2 linked regions of the Homo sapiens genome follow. The protein of the gene in region 1 purifies or fractionates together with the protein of each later gene. This does not show direct contact. Each region holds a gene or a part of one and is shown on either strand. Other genes may lie near its edges. The genes, in order: RCBTB1 and HERC3.

Evidence for each region.
Region 2: the proteins of RCBTB1 (region 1) and HERC3 purify together in Homo sapiens (affinity purification with mass spectrometry, with the first as the bait; one large-scale study listed by BioGRID). This does not show direct contact.

Annotation. Positions count from the first base shown.
Region 1 is NC_000013.11:49,578,755-49,582,577, forward strand, and holds part of RCBTB1 (RCC1 and BTB domain-containing protein 1), read right to left. Parts: intron 1,831-3,823; 5' UTR 1,751-1,830; intron 1-1,750. UniProt on the Homo sapiens protein: May be involved in cell cycle regulation by chromatin remodeling.
Region 2 is NC_000004.12:88,700,278-88,704,100, reverse strand, and holds part of HERC3 (probable E3 ubiquitin-protein ligase HERC3), read right to left. Parts: intron 4-3,823; coding exon 1-3. UniProt on the Homo sapiens protein: E3 ubiquitin-protein ligase which accepts ubiquitin from an E2 ubiquitin-conjugating enzyme in the form of a thioester and then directly transfers the ubiquitin to targeted substrates.

The sequences.
Region 1 (3,823 bases):
GTGAGCCTTTCCTCAGTGAAGATCATCCAGTTTCCTAGAAGAACAAAGTGTTCTTCATAGCCTTCTTCCTTTTTTAGCAATAAATGTTCCATTTGAGCACAAAAGATTGAAGGGTATGACAATCTTTATTTCTGAATCCATTTAATTCCAGAAAAACATTCAAATAAGAGAGCTCTACGGTTTGGGGTAAACTTTGGTATACAACATTACAACTTAATGTCTTCCATCTATGCTACAGCAAAAGCAATTCAAAAACCCTCTCAAGGTACAAACAGCCAAATGTTACTCTTACCAATTTCTTACATATAATTCTGATGGGCTTTTTGAGACTGAGCAAATGCTGTCTCATTGAGATACCAAATGTATTTCCCAGGTCCAGATAAGCCTCTAAGAATCAGCCTCAAACATTTTTAAATAAAAATAAAACTTAAAACCATTTCACCCACTCTATGGTATAAGGGCTGCAAATCACAGGCAAAGTTTCGAAGATGTGCTGAGACACTAATATGTTATTGCCCCAGCTGCTAGAACAGCTGTCATCCACGTCTCTCTTCTGCAAACACACAGTACTACAAGAATGAAAGGGAGGCCGGGCGTGGTGGCTCACACCTGTAATCCCAGCACTTTGGGAGGCCGAGGCAGGCGGATCACGAGGTCAGGAGATCAAGACCATCCTGGCTAACACAGCGAAACCCCGTCTCTACTAAAAATACAAAAAAATTAGCCGGGCCTGGTAGTGGGCGCCTGTAGTCCCAGCTACTCTGGAGGCTGAGGCAGGAGAATGGCGTGAGCCCAGGAGGCACAGCTTGCAGTGAACCGAGATGGTGCCACTGCACTCCAGTTTGGGTGACAGATCGAGACTTGTCTCAGAAAAAAAAAAAAAAAGAATGAAAGGGAAAGGAAGAATGCCCTGAATGCTTGACTAAGGAGTCTGAGAATGTAGCCTTCTCCCAAAGTAGTTTGTCATCCTTCAAGCTGAAGCCACCTGTACAGGTGAGTGAAGATAATACCCCCACCTTCATTTAGAGAACAGTATGACTAGTGTTTTAGAATTCTCTGATTGTGCCTACCCTTTGTTTCATAAGTTTTGTTCAAATTCATCACTAATTTTAGAGGAAAATGTAAGTTCCTACAACTGTCATTTCCCAACCACTAATAAGTTATTTGACTTGAAGCACAATTTGCAATAATGGCCTCTGTAAGCATTTCTTTAGCCCCATCATCCAAGGGGCTGCTTTCATCTCATTCATTTCATCTCGTCTCACTTCTAACCTCAGCCATGTGCTCGAAAAGCAAACGAACCAAGTGGCAATAGCATTAGCAGTGAAAAAAATAACATATCTAGGGTTGTGCAGCTGACTGAGATCTTATAAAAGTATTGCTTTTATAGGATACTGTTGTTTTCAAAAGGAAACCAGAAAAGAAATATCGATGATTAGAAATAATGTTTTTTCTGTAAGTTTGTTCTTTGTTAAACCAAACAAACAGGTGTCACAAAACAGAACAAAAAAACCAATGATGGGTCAAAGTTTAAAGAAATGGATAGATGGCTGGGTGAAGTGGCTCACACCTGTAATCCCAGCATTTTAGGAGGCGAAGGCAGGAGGATCACTTGAACCCAGGAGTTCAAGACCAGCCTGGGCAACATGGCGAGACTCCATTTCCTTAAAAATAAAAAGATTAGCCAGTCATAATGGTGTGCGCCTGTAGTTAGTCCCAGCTACTCAAGAGGCTGAGGTGGGAGGATCACCTGAGTCCAGGAGGTTGAGGCTGCAGTGAGCCGTGTTCACACCACTGTATTCCAGTCTGGGCAAGAGAGCAAGATCCTGTCTGAAAAAGAAAAAAGAAATGGATAAAACATAATACTTCATTTTATTTTCCAAATGAATTCAAGGCTGGAATTGGTGGGTCAAATTCAAATCTAAATATGGTTTCATGAATCTTTCTCATGTGGATACCCCAAAAGTGATTTCATCTATTAGTCCCCAGTTGTATGAAAAGTATCAACTGTACCCTGCAATGACCTAAAGCCAAACTGAAATTCCAGCAATGGACTGGCAGAACCATACACTATTAATTCAATAAATTTTCTTAGGTAAACAGGACACAGAGCCAACACCAACAGAAATTACATGGGGTTGGGGGATCTAGACACATAAACAGATGCTCACAACAGTGTGGCTGGTCAGATGCTGTGGAGGCAACAGAATTGGGAAGTATGCTTCAGCTACCTAAAGAGAAGCAGGCGCCTGCAACAGTGAGCACTCATGCCAGGTAAGGCTCTGGTGGAGGAACTGAAAGAAAGTCAGCATGGCTGCAGCCAAACAACTCAGGCTTTATCCTAAGAGCACCAGGTAATCCCTGAAGGGTCTTAAGCAGGGAAGTGGCATAAACAGATGTAGGTCTATGAAAGATTACTTTGGCTGACCACAGAGACATGAGACGACAAAGGAGTGCTTAGAGGAAGTCCAGATGGCTATGGTAAGCCAGAAAAGAAGGGATTGAAGCCCACACTAGGGAAATGGAGAAAATTGAACAAGAAGGAAAATCAAGAAGATTCTGCAACTGGCTGAATGGGACAAGGAGCACTGGATAAGCAGAAAGGCAGAGCCGAAGATCACAGGCAGACGCTGAGCTTGAGTGAGAGAGAACTGTGCTGCCACTCACTACAGCAGAAAGCACAGCAGGCCTCAGGGGTGATGAGTCCTACTATGGACATTTGTGCCAGGTACCTGTGGGATATTAAAGTGGACAAGTCCCAACAGATGGATTTAGAAATCTGAAGCTCAAGAAAGGTCTGGATTGGAGATTTGGAAATCTGGCATGAAATCACCCAGGAAAAAAGCAAGTGAAATAAGGAGAGCAGAGTACCTTAAGAAGAACTCTAAGAAACTCCAACGGGAAAGGGACAGGGAGTACCCCCTAGAAGGGACTGTGAAGGAAGAGGTAGACCAGGAGGAAAACCAGGAGACAGAGTGTCACAGAGATCTGGGGACTTGAGCATCACAGGCAAGAGGCATGCTAGTGTCGAATGCTGCTGAGACACCAAACGAGGGAAGGGTGGAGAAACTTCCATTGGATTTAACAAGGAGAATTATCAGTGACCTTAACAAGAACAGTTTCACTGAGGTTGTGGGTGGAAGAGGCCAGGTTGCAGCAGGTTGAGGCGTATGTGAAAGGTGAAGAAAAGGAAACCATGAGTATAAACAACTTGTTCAAGAAATTTCACTCTGAAGGAAAAATGAGAAATCGCATAGTAATCACAGAATGTGATAGAGTTGCAGGACGTTTTCTGTTAACCTTTTTAATGTAAACATTGTTAGAGGCTTGAACATGTTTGAATTAATGGGAAGGAGCCAGTAGAAACATCAAAGAGGAGAGGATGTAACAACTCAATGGGCCTTAAGAAAGTAGCAGGGAATGGGATCTGAAGCAGAAGTGCAACAGAAGCGCCGGGCGCAGTGGCTCATGCCTGTAATCCCAGCACTTTGGGAGGCCGAGGCAGGTGGATCATCTGATGTCAGGAGTTCGAGACCGGCCTGGCCAACATGGTGAAACCCCATCTCTATTAAAAATACAAAAATTAGCTGGGCATAGTGGTGGGTGCCTGTAATCGCAGCTACTCAGGACCCTGAGGCAGGAGAATCGCTTGAACTCGGGAGACGGAGGTTGCAGTGAGCCAAGATCACACCACTGCACTCCAGCCTGGGCAACAAAAGCAAAATTCTGTCTCTAAATAAATAAATAAATAAATAAATGCAAGAGAAACTGTAGAAAGGAGCAAGTCTTCCTTTTCTTCCTTCCACAAGAGGAGGAGGAAAGG
Region 2 (3,823 bases), on another chromosome or scaffold:
TGCCTGCCAGAACACAAAAGAAAATACATTTAGCTCAAAGTCTTGTAAAGCTTATGAAGTTACCCTTCTACACTGAGATTGGGAGTGATAAAAAATAGAATTTCATCAAATTCTCAAATCAGGAGGCATCCTAAGGCATCATATAGGTTACCAGCTCTCCTCTCCTCCCTCTCCATCCCCAGCCCTAACATTCCACCAAGTGCCTCAGGTGATCCAAGGCAGGATAAGCCAGATAGGAAGGGCAGCAGGCCAGGTATATAGAACTAAACTACTGGCTTTACCTGAGGTATTCCAGTTTTCATGTTAAAAGCCCTGCTTAAAATTTAGTGTGGAAAAAATAATAAGACCTTTTCTGCTTAAAATAAAAAGTCTAGGATAACAGTTCTAGGCCATTTTCCTCAGAAACAAATAAAGCTAAACCACTTGATACTTGTATCCTCACCTGTTTTAAAAGGTTCATTTTATAACTCCTTGTTTATAAAACCTTTACCTCTGGGAAGAACCATCTCAAATAAAGGCTCCATCTCACTAATAATCAGGCAAATGCAAATGAAGACGAGTGAATTGTCATTTGCACTCATCAGACTGGCCTAAGTTTAAAAATGAGATTATATCAATATGGTGAAGGTGTGGGGAAAACAGAAACCTCATAGGCAGTTGGTAGGAAGATAAACTGAAATGATGGGAACCATATCGCAACCATGGAAATATATAAAGATCAACCAAATGAGAAGAGCAAAGGCTATTTTTTCAGAGCTGCTATAGCAAGAGAGTCAGCCACTGTCACTTGTGTTGTGGCAGAGACTCAAAATCAAGCAGAGGAGTGGAAAAGCTTTACAGTGGAAAGAGGGAAGGCTTCAGGTACACTCTGATTGGAGGCTGCTAGTCTGGGGAAGCTGCAGGTGGGCTAACTAGAAGTGGGGCATCCTATGTGACTGGTTAAGGGTGTGTATTTGGCTTTCTCTGGTTGGCCCTAAGTTGGAAGTAGGAACAAAAATTAGGGAAGCTGCTGATTATTAATCACATCCTGGCCTATTTGGGCCCACTGTTACAGAAGTTATCGAGACAGATGGCAATCAGGCTGCCTGCAAGTCTGACTTATAGCAGGCTGGCTTCCTGGGCTGCTTATTGCAGATAAGAGGTTGGTTTCCCGGGCAGGTTGCTGCAGATTGTGGGTCTCAGCTCCATGTTTATTTATATATGGCCTGGCCATTGTCCATAGGAATATTCAGTCTCTCACAAGTGGAAATATAAACTGTGAACCTAGACATAAACATTTTGGGGGGAAATTCTGTCAATATCTAGATAAGTTGAAAATGTAAATACCCTTGACCATGCCACTGTGCTAGCGGGTAGGTAATGCAGAGACGCTAACATGTGTGCACAAGAAGATGAGTGCAGGCAAGTTTACTGCAGCATTTTCTTGCAATATAGAGAATTTAGAGAAACAACACTAAACATCCATTAATATGAACATGGACAAGGAAAAGATGGTAGAGTCATATGATGGAAACCATAAAGCAGAGCACTTTGATGGAATTAACTAGATCTAAACTTAGCAAAATGAATAGAATCTCAAGAACAATGCTGAGTGAAAATCAAGTATTTGCATGTTCAGTAAAATATGATGGCATTTATGTAAGTTGTGTTTTAACACTTAAAACAATGCTACTTATAAAAGGTAGTAGCTCTGTCACTCAGAGCTTGTGACCCTTGGGCAAGTTATTTAACTTCTCCATGCCTGTGTCCTCATTTGTAAAATGGGGGAGAGTAAGAGTAGATAACACATGGGACTGCTTTAGGATTAAATGAGTGAATACATGTAAGAGTGCTTAAACCAAGGCTGGTGTATAACAATTACTTTGTAAGTATTAACTAGTATTATCATATTGTTTATGGATATGAGATTTTGCTTATGAGTATGAAATTATAAATATGATGCATACATAAGATGTGTAAGTGTTCATTTTTAAAAACAAAGACATTAATGTAAAAAGATCTTTGTCTAGCCAGGTGCAGTGGCTCATGCCTATAATCCCAGCACTTTGGGAGGCTGAGGCAGGCAGATGGCTTCAGCCCAGAATTCAAAACCAGCCTGGGCAACATGGCAAGACCCAGTCTCCACAAAAAATTAGCCAGGCCTGGTGGTGCATGCCTGTAGTCCCAGCTGCTCAGAAGGCTGAGGTGGGAGAATCACCTGAGCCCAGGAGGTCAAGGCTGCAGTGAGCCATGATCACGCCACTGTACTTCAGCCCGGGTGACAAAGCAAGACCCTATCTCAAAAAAAAAAAAAAAAATCTGTTTTAACATACATGTTTATTATAAAAAGTATAAAAACATAAAAAAAACATATCAAATTCATAAGAGTTTTGTCTGTGTAAGAAAGAAGGGCGGGAAGAGGGGAATGGAATTAAGGGTATGTACAACAGTATCAGTAATTTGGAATTAAGGGTATGTACAGCGGTATCAGTAATTTTTTTCTTTTATTAAAAAATCTGAAGCAAATACCTGTTGACTGTGGATCATATATACAAATGTTTGTCACATTAACTTTTTGTATTTTAGATTAAAAACAATTTTAAAACTTCACATCATGAAGATAGTTATTTACTACTTATCCATCACTGTAATTTAATACTTCATAAAGCTACATTTGAATTATTGGGTTTCCTCCAAGCAGATAGTTTTTACATGTTCACCATCCACACCAATAACTAGCCAACAAATGGTGTAATACAGTGGATAAGTGAGGCAGACAGGGGTTCAAATCCAGGCTCTGCCATCTTCTGTATCTAACTAGTAAGCCTCCCTTTTCCCATTTTTAAAATGGTATAACTGTGCAATCTTTAAAATAAAGCCACTAATGTAAAAAGATTATTGTGCATGTTAATCATTGATGCTGAAAGTTTCTCACACCGTATATAACACCTCACTTCTCTGAAACCCATGACACTAAACTAATGACATTTTTCTGATACAATTACCCAAGAGAAACACCATCACAACAATTTTTATTACAGACTGTGATGGTTAATTTTATAGGTCAACTTGGCTAGGCTATGGCATCCAGTTGTTTGGTCAAACACCAGTCTGGATGTTGTTAAGATATTTTTTTAGTTGGGATGAACATTTAAATTCATTGACTTTGAGTAAAGCAGGTTACCCTCCATAATGTGGGTAGGCCATATCCAATCAGCTGAAGGCCTTAAGAGAAAAAGACTTGAGGTCCTCCAAAGAGGAAAGAATTCTCCCTCCAGACTGTCTTTGGACTCAAGATTTAAATATTAACTATTGCCAGAATTTCTAGCCTTACAGCCTACCCTGCAGATTTCGGGTTTGACAGCCCCCACAATCACATGAACCAATTCTTTAAAATAAATCCCTCCTTGCCCCCACCCCCCTCGGCTTCACACCCTGTTGGTTCTGTTTCTCTGGAGAACACTGACATATAGATTTCGGTACTAAGAAGTACAGTACTACAACAGCAAATACCTAAAAACGCAGATGTGCCTTTGAAATGAGGAAATAGGTAGAGCCTGAAAGAGTTTTGAGGAGCTTGATAGAAAAACCTAGATTTCACTTAAGGGACTATTGGTAGAAATAGCTCAACAGTCTCAGGAAGCAGCCTGAGACTCTCACCATCTACATGCCCAATCTTGAACCTTTTAGCTAGCAGCCTCCGGTCTTCCTTTTTAGCAACACTAAACAGATTAAAGCCACTTTGGGAAACAGTGTGGCAGCTTCTTATGAAGTTAAGCGTACATTTACTGTATGACCCAGCAATCCCACTGCTAGGTGTCTACCCAAGAGAAATAAAAGTCCA